3 linked regions of the Homo sapiens genome follow. The protein of the gene in region 3 purifies or fractionates together with the protein of the main gene of each other region. This does not show direct contact. Each region holds a gene or a part of one and is shown on either strand. Other genes may lie near its edges. The genes, in order: SORL1, ATP2B4 and LGALS9.

Region 1 (3,749 bases), on a different chromosome or scaffold from region 3:
ACTGAGTCATTGCTGGAGTTCAGTTCAACAGAGCTGCAGCTTGGGAAGCCCTGTAAGCCCACAGCTTCCTCTCTTATATTAATTGATGGAATTTTACTGTATGTGCCTCTGTACAAGATGTAGCTTTGAGAGCTACAAAATGATAACACTGCTTTATTACACACTGGTTTCATTGTCATTGCAAAAACTTACCCTGGTTGTGGGGGAGAGTTCTAGATCTGTGCCATGATCCATACACTGGCTAATAGAGTACATAATTTTTCCATTTTCCATTTTTTGTTTTTACTTACTACTGAAGGATCTCAGATGTAAAATTATGTATTTGGTTTGAGATGGCCACTTATTGTCCTTAAAAATCCATACTGATATATGCAGTCATTTTGAATTGGACAGTGCCTTCTCTTTTTTTTTCTCCTCTTCTTCCATCTCCCTCACCCATGCCCCCACCCAATCTAAAGAGACAGTGCTGTACATTCTCATAGAGATAGAGAAGATCTAAAAAGTTGAGACTACTCAATCCAGTTAACAACAGCAGGAGCACTAGAGTTTGTTCATTTATTCTCTCTGTAAAACAAGCTGTGCTTTTTTTCTTCTGCCTTTAAAATGCCACCCGTGTATTCAAACCATGGCCACTTGATACTTATGTAGAATCCATCGTGGGCTGATGCAAGCCCTTTATTTAGGCTTAGTGTTGTGGGCACCAATGTCGAGCATCGTTGTGACTTGTGCTGTATGATTCTCACTGAAGAATTTCCTTTCAGCCAAGAAGCAGTGAGGTCTGGGAATATTCCAAAGTCATGTCTCTGAATATGTGTCCTTGACGTGCAAGCTTTGTAAAACCCCATCCCCGCTTAGGTGCGAGGCATCACCTTCTCACAAGTGTTTAGTTTCTTTTAACCACAAGTATCATTCTTGGGTGATAATATAGTTTCATTCTACTTAGGGATTGTTTAGAAAACAAAGAAAGAGCCAATTAAATTTTTTAGTTTTTGAAATTTTTATTTATATGTATACTTAGATGAGTATTTTAAGCTGTCGACCTTTAGTTTGCCATACGGGTAGGACTGTATTTCATGTTAACAACTGGTGGTAATGATAAGCCTTCTTCTAGCGTATTTTCTCTTCTTTCCTGTCACTTTCCTAAGTTTTTTTTTTTAAAGACTGGAATTTTTTTTGGCTTTATCTTGTCTTACCGTAGAGATTTGTTCAAAACTCTAAGCCCTACCACCTCCCCTTTAATAAGCTCTTTAAATAGTTGAATCATTAACAACCTGGTGGGAGGCAAGTCATTTAATTGAACCACTAGGAAGTGTATTTTCTTTTCTTTTTCTGCCAACTTTTTGGTGGCATTTGTAAAAGCTGATATAAAAGGCTCTGAGATGTTATTTTCAGTTATTCCATAGGCAAGCCTTTTTACAGAGCATATGTCTCCAGTTGGCAGCTTGAGATATTTCCGAGCATCCGGTTCTAGCTACCAGTGCCTCCCAATGCTTAGTGCACAGTACTGTAGACTGGCCATCACCCCTCTCCTTGGAAAATGCCACTGTGCTGTTTGAAAAAAAGCAGCCTTTTAGGGCTAGAGTATTTTATATAAACAGAAGAGCTAAGTTCCTGAAGACTAAGCTAGATAGCTGCAGCTATATGTAAATTGTATATTTTTATGAACTTTTGAAGCACACACTCCTGTTTCCCTCTGTGTAGCTTTGTGGGGATTTCATGTATATATGCTGTCTGAAAGAATCCAGAGGTTGGAGTGCCAATAGAAAATGAAAACAAATGCCTTGTACTACAGGCAGCCTCTGAAGGTGACCACATAACTGTCTTCACTGTGACCAATCGGAGTCCCTGCTTGCTTGTGAAGAAGGGGCTTTTGTACCTTGTTGGAGATGCCACCTCAGAAGTTCACACTGTGCAGGAAAAAGGTTTTATTCTCTCCTGGCATACATTAGAATGTCAGATGCTTGCATCCATGTGGACCACGATGGGCCTCTAAAAATTGGTGGGCAGGGGGTTTGCTTATGAGTTTTCTCTGGAAACCGATTTTACTCCTGGATGTATTGAATGCCCCTTGAGCTTTATGAGATACGAGTCCACATGGATAAAATGTTAGAGAGTGGAGTTCTACAGAGGATTCCAGGAAGAGGCCATGTCTGTGCAGTCCTAGTTCCAGACAGGTGAGAAGCTCCAGGAACTACTGGCTACCTTGACAAGCTGGGTAAATAGTTATCATTCTGGGTAACTGGTTGAAACTCTGACTTTTGGACAAGTAATTCCTGGGGTTCTGTCTTTGGTAGCATCACCAGGGATATTTGGGTGGGACAGACAGAAGACACACAGCTGCCTGTTCTCTCCTGCCCATCATGTTTGGCCCACTAGATGAAGCTGTACTCAGCAATTTAGGGAATGTAACCCTTCTCAGAACTGGCCATTTTCAGGGGAAGCTTGGGAGAGCAATAGTATGGTGAGCCCCTTAGAGATGAGCGCCTACTCCTTCTTGGCGAATGCTGCCTTCAGATGCTTACCAAGTGGTCACTGCATCTAGTAAGATTATATTTCCAGTACACTTCCTTAGGGCAGAAACACCATCCTATCAGGTTTGGTCAGTCCCTTCTTCATGAAGGGAGTCATGGGGAATTCCTGAAAATTTTCTTCCTTCTGCAGACAGTTGGATGAGTCCCTTAGAGAAGGCATCCAGAGACATAACTAAACTGAATATCATCCCATATTGATTTTAGGAATTGACTCTAAAACTCTGTGCAGAATCTTGTGTTGGGATTGTATCTTGACATTCCTGTTGTGTTATTTTTCTTAACTGGAGTGTGTGCTGCCTTTCAGGTACAATTTTTGTGTAATAAAAGCCAGTGCATTAAGTTTATATAGACTACTTTCTATGCAAGACTGAGATATGGAATAGATAGGAAGAGATATGTACTGCTGGGTACATGGACAGTAAGTGTGTTTTCAGATGGAGTACCAGCACCGAAAATGGGTTGAGGGAGGATGGGTTGTATGTATGTTTCTGCCCACTAATTTTGAGCAGCCATATTATGAATTAAATCGTCACAGCCAAGTAATAACCCAAGAATGGTATGAGTTTCATGTGTAATAGCTCAAATGGAATAAGCATGAATGCTGGAGTGGACCATTATCCTCAAATATTCTATGTCACTTCTCATTTAAAGACTCTTGTTATGAACTATTAGAAACTTTAGGCAAAATCAAAAGTATTTGCGGCAAAATAAAGGCCTATTCTACTCTTATTTAAAGTGAAACACTGTATACTTGTTTCTCTCCAAAGCGAAATTAAGTATTTATAATTTCAATTGCCTCGATAAGTTTCCAAGTCACTGAAATCTGCTGAAGGTTTTACTGTATTGTTGCACAACTTTAAGATAATTTTTGTCTCAATGTCAACTTTTTTCACTGAATAAAAATTTAACTGGGTCAAGAAAACACCTCTTTGAAAATCCACTGTCTCTGTGTGTCTCGAGCTGTTCTTTAGAGCGCAATAAAGATGGCTGACGCAGTCTCCAAACCCCATTTGATTGGTCTGTTTTAAACGGATGTTTATTTCATAGATGAGAGAACACCAAGGCCTGGAATAATTTTGTTATTAACAAGCTGGTCTCAGATGGTGGATCCTTGAAGAACACGATGTCTTTGTGTTGGTTGAGGAGGGGGAAGATGTGCTGGCTGTTTTGAAGTAAACAGAATTATTCCGTAGGGACAATGACTAAAGTGGCTCCCTT
Region 2 (3,649 bases), on a different chromosome or scaffold from region 3:
GAGGCTTCCTGCCTCCCAGGTTGTGCCGAGCCTCAGACCCTTCTCCCTTCCATTTACCACCAAGTCTCTAGATTCAAGGTCAAGTCAAAGGAGCACAGCCCGTCTTACCCCTGGGACTCCCAGCGCCCAGCACGGAGCCTGGGATGTTAGAGCGCTGGGTCAAGGCATGTTGAGAGAAGCACGGGCAGTTTGGGGGCCTTGGAATCAGCCTGACGCCAGCGAGTTCCTAACCCGCCGTCTGGCCTCCAGTTTCCCCTCTGCACAATGGAAAGCCTGCTCTCCACGGTAGAGGTGACAGGGCGTGGCTAGGCAGATTTGTCACACTGCTGTGGTCTTTGTCAGAAGAAAATCAAAATGAGAGGGCCCAGTTAGGGGCAGAAGGAGAGCAGTTAGAATTTGCCGAAGGTGTGGGGGCTGGAAGAGGTAAGGTGATGTGTAGGGGCTGGATGTCCTGGGCCAGGATATCGGGAGGCTTTACTCTTCCCCACTCCCACTAACCGGAGGTCCCGAGAGGAACGGGGTCTGGGCTGCTCCCTGCCACCTGTCAGCAGGTCAAGCCTTCCACCGGAAACTGCCCCTTATTCAAGAATTTAGCTTCTCTCAAAAACTCCGAAACCCCTTTTCTCTCTCTCTCTCTCTCTCTCTTTTTTTTTTTTTTTTTTCAATGCTCCTGGCCTTGGACCCAGCACCCAAAGACATGGATTAGCCCTATCCACTAGGACAGAGCATTGCAGACCCACTAAGCCTTGGAGAGAGAAAAGGATCTTGTTCATTCTTAGTCCCCAGAATGACCAAGACAAACCCCGTTAGCCAAACCCCTAAAAAACTGTTTGGCTTAGGTTAGATTAGCTCCAAGTGTTTGACCTTGAAGGGGAACACCCCACCCAGAGTCTTAACTATCCTTCTCTGGAAGGATTCTTCAGGCAATCTGAATTCTTCCCCCGAAGGGCGCCCCTCAGACAAGGCTCCCTACCCAGCCCAGTTCCCTGCTTCTCAGATAAGCATTGATTCCTGTCATCCCAGTGGGTATTTGGTGGGTAGGGGTGAGAAGGAAAGAGGGATGAGAAAAGCAAGGCCTCTGCCTTGTCAGACTGGGATGACAACCTTTCTCCACTCATGTCCCCTTTTCTGCAGGTCATAGGATTAGAGCAGGCCCTGGGGCTGGAGTCCAAAATGCTTGTGTGGAATGTTTTGCCCTTGGCTTCCTCTGCCAGTATCTCTCCTTGTGTCCTCTTTCCTCTTTCCCTTGTGTGAGCCATTCTTGTTCCACTGACTTATTTCCTCTGTACATGTTAAAACAGAAATGACAGGGACTTTCTATTTCTGCCTCTACCTTAAGCCAGTCCTCTGTGTTCAGCCTACATGAACTTGAGTTGAGGAGGGAAACCAGGCAGGATCTAGTGAGGACCAGAGCCAAGGGCTCTGGGTCAGGGAAGAGGCTTGAGAGGCAGTCTATGTGTGAAGGATAGTGGAGAGGCCAAAGGAAAGGAAAGGATTGAGAACATAGGTGCCAAGGGGCAGAGCCCCCATTTCTACCTTTCCTCACCCCAGTTCCTCTCTGCCTAAGATCCTCAGCCTCATTACTCACCTCTGCTCTAGTTTCCCAAGTTTCATGCACAAATCCCTGGGACAACTCAGGGAAGATGAACTGGGATGGGATTACTAAGACCCCCTTCCTCTTGCCTTTCTGCCACTTCACTTGGGGTGTGGCAAAGGGAGTTTGGAGCAGTGCGTTTATTGGTAGGAAGGTCAGGGACTCTCAGCTAGGTTCAAGGAAAGTCTTAGCTTAGAACACCTCATGGCAAGGTCTACCTAGGTTGCGAAATCAATGCCAGGAATACAAACAAGTAGTATACCCTCAATACTAACAGCCCATCTAACATCCCAGGCTCCGTGCTGGGCGCTGGGAGTCCCAGGGGTAAGACGGGCTGTTAGTATTGAGCCCGGGAAGTTAGCAATATCTAACAAAGCTACGTACACATTTACCCAGCAATCCTACGTCTAGGAATTTATCCAGAAGGTGCTCATTCACAAATATGGAAAGCTACGTACAAGGTGATTTTTGTTTGTTTGTTTGTTTGTTTTTTGAGACAGAGTCTCGCTCTGTCGCCCAGGCTGGAGTGCAGCGGCGCGATCTCAGCTCACTGTAAGCTCTGCCTTCCGGGTTCAAGCAATTCTCCTGTCTCAGCCTCGTGAGTAGCTGGGATTACAAGTGCTAGCCACCACACCGGCTAATTTTTTGTATTTTAATAGAGATGGGGTTTCACCGTGTTGCCCAGGCTGGTCTCAAACTCCTGAGCTCAGGCAATCTACCTGCCTGAGCTGGGATTATAGGTGTGAGCCACCAAGCCCAGCCACAAGGTGGTTTTTAAAGGCATATTTACAATAGGAAATCATTGGAAACTATCCAAATGCCCATTCTTTAAAAAATGGTTAAACAAACAATGGTACAGTCCATACAATAGAATCCTAGGTAGCCAAAAAGAAAAAAAAAAGAATGACTAGGAGCCCTGTGAACTTATATGACATGATTGTTAGGATATATTATTAAGTGAAAAAACCAAGACATAGTACAGTATATAGTATGCCACCTTTGGGATAAGAAAGCAGGAGAAGTAAGAAATTTTTTTTTTTTTGAGACAGAGTCTCGCTCTGTTGCCCAGGCTGGAGTGCGGTGGTGGGATCTCGGCTCACTGCAAGCTCTGCCGCCCGGGTTCACGCCATTCTCCTGCCTTATCTTCCTGAGTAGCTGGGACTACAGGCGCCTGCCACCACGCCCGGCTAATTTTTTGTATTTTTAGTAGAGACAGGGTTTCACCATGTTAGCCAGGATGGTTTCGATCTCCCGACCTCATGATCCGCCCACCTCAGCCTCCCAAAGTGCTGGGATTACAGGCGTGAGCCACCACGCCTGGCCTAATTTAAGTACTTTTTAACCTTCATTCCCTGATTCTATATTCATATTTTAAGTAAAAAAAAAAAAAAAAACCACCTACAAAGAAATCTTGACCTTTACTTTGTAGACATGTTATTGGTTGTGGTATTTGTGTCATAAATTGGAAACTGTTTCGTTTATTGTATGATAGATGAAATGAGTAACTATGGTGATATTTCTGGAAATCAGGGTCTCACTATGGAAAAAGAGAGATATAAGTATGGAATGGGGGAAGGGGAAAAAGAATCTTTCGGGGTTTTTTTGTATATCTTGTGGGTCTGTCCACTGAAAGGACTGTGGAAAGGAACACACCTAGTACCTGGATTTTTATTTCTAAGTACAACTTCCCACGGGGGAGGTTGTAAGGAACAGTGCTCCTTGAAAAAATGACTAATTTCAAGTCTGAGACTGGGAAAGTATAAGTGAACTGTGTTGTGCCAGAAACTAGAGCATGCTCATGTCATGACATGTTGTCACAGGAGCTGGCTTAAAGGGTCTCCCGCCAACCAGAGGTGAAACACATTAAGCATTCCAAAGGATAATGGTAATAGATTGTAACACATTGAATATTAAAAATTCCTTGAGTCTATTTTGACAGTTGACATGGACAGGGAGGAGCAGGGAGGGAAAACTCTGAACAGAAATGCCAACGAGGCCAGACACAAGGCCTCACTCTGTAATCCTACCACACTGGGAGGCCAGGGCAGGAGGATC
Region 3 (3,749 bases):
TATTACAACTCACCAAGCAGTTTTTCTTTTTATTTTTTATTTTTCAATTTTTTGAGACAGAGTCTTGCTCTATTACCCAGGCTGGAGTGCAGTGGCGTGATGAGGGTTCACTACAGCCTTGACCTCCTGGGGTCAAGTGAGCCTCCCACCTCAGCCTCCCATGTAGCTGAGACCACAGGTGTGCACCACCACACCTGGCTAATTTGTTTGTTAAATTATATGTAGGGACAGGGTCTTCCAACCTTTCCCGAGCTGGTCTCAAGCTCCTGGGCTGAAGTGATCCTCCTGCCTCAGCCTCTCAAAGTGCTGGTATTATAGGCATAAGCCACCACGCCCTGCCCATTTTTCTAAGTTGGATTATTTTACACTCCAGTCTGCTGTGAATGAGAGTTCCAGTTGTTGCGTATCGCAATCAATTTGTGATTGCCTACAAATGATGTGCCGTGATGAAATTGTCCCTGGTGTCCGAGAGGATCGCAAAGAATTTCCCTTCCTTTCTCTCCTTTCTGCTCCCCTTGTACTGTCTACTCCTTAAACTGGTACTTGATCCAGGAACATAATGGGGATGGACAGTGCAGATGGCACACATGGCCTCAGTCTATTGGAGCATCTCAAAGGAATTAGTCTGCAAATTCTAGTGCATCTAGGTGGAGCACAGGAAGGAAGAGAGGTGCAGACTCACGTATGGCCCTGGGGCACCTGCCATCCTCTCGCACCCGTACAGCCCTTACCTGCCAGCACTTACCCTACCCAGCTTGAGTTCTGGGCCTTCTCACCAGCACATCGCTGGGACCTGGTCGACTTCAGGTAAGTTTATTTCATGGCTCCCTCCCCCACGACCTGCACATGCCATATGTTCCTTCCCAGCCCCATGTCACTTGAAATGTTCTATCATGTCCAAGACTTCTCTCCTCATCCTAAAGTGCAGAAAATAAGGATGGAGAAGAGAAGGAGAAGAGAATCAAGAGAGATTCATTGAGAGGGAGGATCAGAAGCTCCTGGGCACCCCATACTGTAGAATAAAAATATTCATTATGGTGTTTTTCTTGCAAAATATTCCCCTCTACATAATTATGTTTTTACATGAATAATATAAATTTAAACAGGAGAAATACTTTTTGAAGAGTCTGAGAATCTTCATAAAGTTCAGGCGGCCACGAATTAGCTGTGTGACCTGGGGCATGCCCCTTAGACTCTGAGCCTCAGCTTCTCTGTATGTAAAATGGGTTGAAGCCGCCCTTCCCCACAAGCACCCTGTGCACAGGCAATGCCCAGCCCCATTATTTTCTGGACTCCGTGGCCAAGCATGCTTAGGACACACAGCCACATACTTCTGGGCAGTGTCATCTGGCAACTTGCTGTCATGTCAGTGTGGTCAAGCATTGTAGACCTCTATGAACCAAATATGCTTCAGGCTTGGGTTGAGCACAGGAGAGGGAGGAGGGAAAGGTCACTGGGGCTGGGAGTGCCTACTTCCCTCTGTGAGTGTCACCCCAGTCCACCCAGTACCATACCTTTCTCTCTCTGGACCCACTTCCTTTTGCTGCCGGCTCCTCCCCATTGAATAACAGCCAAGTTGCTTTGGTTTCTATTTCTTTGTTAAGTCGTTCCCTCTACAAAGGACTTCCTAGTGGGTGTGAAAGGCAGCGGTGGCCACAGAGGCGGCGGAGAGATGGCCTTCAGCGGTTCCCAGGCTCCCTACCTGAGTCCAGTGAGTTCCAGGGCTATGGGCACAGGGCTGCCTCAGCCAGAGGGACACAGCTCTGGGGCTCTGAGGAAGCAACTCCTGGGTGGCAGGGGATGGGGGTGGGGGCATCCCAAAGAGAACACAAGCAGGGCAGAAATATCAGAGGAGGTCATCCTGGCACACCTGTGCCGTGCTGAGCTCACTCATGCCTGGAGGGATGCTCCTTCCCACGAGTCATGGCTTTGACAGTGTTGACTGAGCTGTCCTGTCCTGTCCTGTCCTGTGTGCTCAGGGGAAGACATGTAGAGCGGGGTGGTTCATGTAAAGAGGAAGCAAGCACGCTTCTGGGACAGTAAGGACGCTACCCGGCATGGTAGTTAAGGGTGCTTACTGTGAAGGTGGCCTCCCTGGGTCCAGCTATTTACTGGCTGGTGGTCTCTGGGCCTCAGTTTCCATATCTGTGAAGTGGGAATAATACTTGAGCCCCCCACTCCCAGGGTTGGGATATGGATTAAGGAAGTAGTGTATCTAGTGTGTTTGAACAGTGCCTGACACACTGTAGGTGCTTTGGGAGTGTTTCATGTTATTGGGTGTCTGAGGGCAGCAGGGAAGACCTCCCGAGGAGGTGTCTGTGCTCTGAAGGTTGGGCATGGGCATGTTCAGGGCATCTGTGGAGGGGCAGTCTCAGAGGTGAGAGGGGGGTGAGGACTGTCCCTGCAGCGTGGGGTCAGAGGGCGGCAGGTGCCTTGCTGAAACCCTGTGAGGTTTATGAGTCCCCTTCATACACGGAAAATCTGAGGCTCAGGGAGGCAGAGGCCAGTTGCCAAATGCCTCCAGATGGGAGTGGCAGCCCCAGGAGCCCAGGAGACTTCAGGGGTCACTGTGTCCTGGGCCGGCTCCTGTCATAGGATCTCACCCCGCCTTGGCAAAGAGCTTCCCGAGGGGCTGGAGAGGGTGGGCTGATGGGTCCTTCCTGGGTGGGGAGGCAGGGTGGGGAGGGTGGGCAGAGGCAGGGTACTGAGGGAGGGAAGCTGCCATGGCCCACCTCAGCAGAGGCCAGGGTCGGGCTTGAGTGCCCCCTGGTGACACTGAGTCCAGAATGAGGCTGCCTACGTTCTGGTCTGCAGAGCTCGGCTCTGCTTTCTAAACTCCAGAGAGAAAGAATGGGGAAAGGAGGCCTGTTTCCTCCTGGCTGTCACCAATGACACCTCAGCCACCCTGTGGAGGCCCCTGAGGTAGGACCTGCACAGAGGGGGCTGGGGGAAGCTGGAACAGGCCGCTGGTGGGGGCCTTAGGGTCAGCAGGTGCTGCCTTGGGCATGTCACCCTGTCTCTGGTTTTCTGTCAAAGAGGGGATCCCAGAGCTTCTTCCAGGTTCTGACATATTATTATTCTGGTGACTGGTTTTTACTTTCTAATCCTTGGATTCAGAAGGAAAATTATCCTACGGACATCAGAGAGTTAAAACAGGGCCTTGGAGTCCAGACAAGAAAGATGATCAGTGCAGCCCCTATGGGTGTCCAGAGTACCCCTCTACCCCACGGGGGCTCCCCTGGGTTGGGACAATTAAGCCTCACTTGGTGACCCATCTGGCAGTCGGAGCCACGCTTCCTCCACATGCCGACAGTGGGGGAAGGTCACGCGGTTCGCTGTCCTGCTGAGGAGGGCTGAGTGCCATGAGGGCCTGGCTTGGAAACCTCACTCCCACTTCTTGTCTGGCCTCATCTAGCCCAGCCTCTTTGGAGGGCCTGGGGGAAGCTGGAACCACGTGCTGTGTGGTCCAGGAAGCACTGGGAGAGCCAGGAATAAGGATGTTCTCAGCTTACTCATGAGAGGAAGCCTGTGTGGTGGTTAGAAGCGTGGGTGCTGGGGTTCAAATCCCAGCTCTGTTGCTGACCAGTTGTGTAACTTTGAGCAAGTGACTGAACTTTTCTGTGCCTCAGTTTCCTCATCTGTAAAAGTGGCCGGGGTTGCTGTGAGGATAAATGTTCCTAGTCATGCCCAGAGCCCTCATGGACACACATGGATCCAAATGCCACAGCAGCCTTAGCTGGTCAACCTCA

The links.
Region 1: the proteins of LGALS9 (region 3) and SORL1 purify together in Homo sapiens (affinity purification with mass spectrometry; 3 studies listed by BioGRID and IntAct, with this or other methods). This does not show direct contact.
Region 2: the proteins of LGALS9 (region 3) and ATP2B4 purify together in Homo sapiens (affinity purification with mass spectrometry; 4 studies listed by BioGRID and IntAct, with this or other methods). This does not show direct contact.

The regions. Positions count from the first base shown.
Region 1 is NC_000011.10:121,630,224-121,633,972, forward strand, and holds the end of SORL1 (sortilin-related receptor preproprotein), read left to right. Parts: 3' UTR 1-3,540; downstream 3,541-3,749. UniProt on the Homo sapiens protein: Sorting receptor that directs several proteins to their correct location within the cell. Along with AP-1 complex, involved Golgi apparatus - endosome sorting.
Region 2 is NC_000001.11:203,629,726-203,633,374, forward strand, and holds part of ATP2B4 (plasma membrane calcium-transporting ATPase 4), read left to right. Parts: intron 1-3,649. UniProt on the Homo sapiens protein: Calcium/calmodulin-regulated and magnesium-dependent enzyme that catalyzes the hydrolysis of ATP coupled with the transport of calcium out of the cell. By regulating sperm cell calcium homeostasis, may play a role in sperm motility.
Region 3 is NC_000017.11:27,629,594-27,633,342, forward strand, and holds the start of LGALS9 (galectin-9), read left to right. Parts: upstream 1-1,594; 5' UTR 1,595-1,672; coding exon 1,673-1,711; intron 1,712-3,749. UniProt on the Homo sapiens protein: Binds galactosides. Has high affinity for the Forssman pentasaccharide. Ligand for HAVCR2/TIM3. Binding to HAVCR2 induces T-helper type 1 lymphocyte (Th1) death.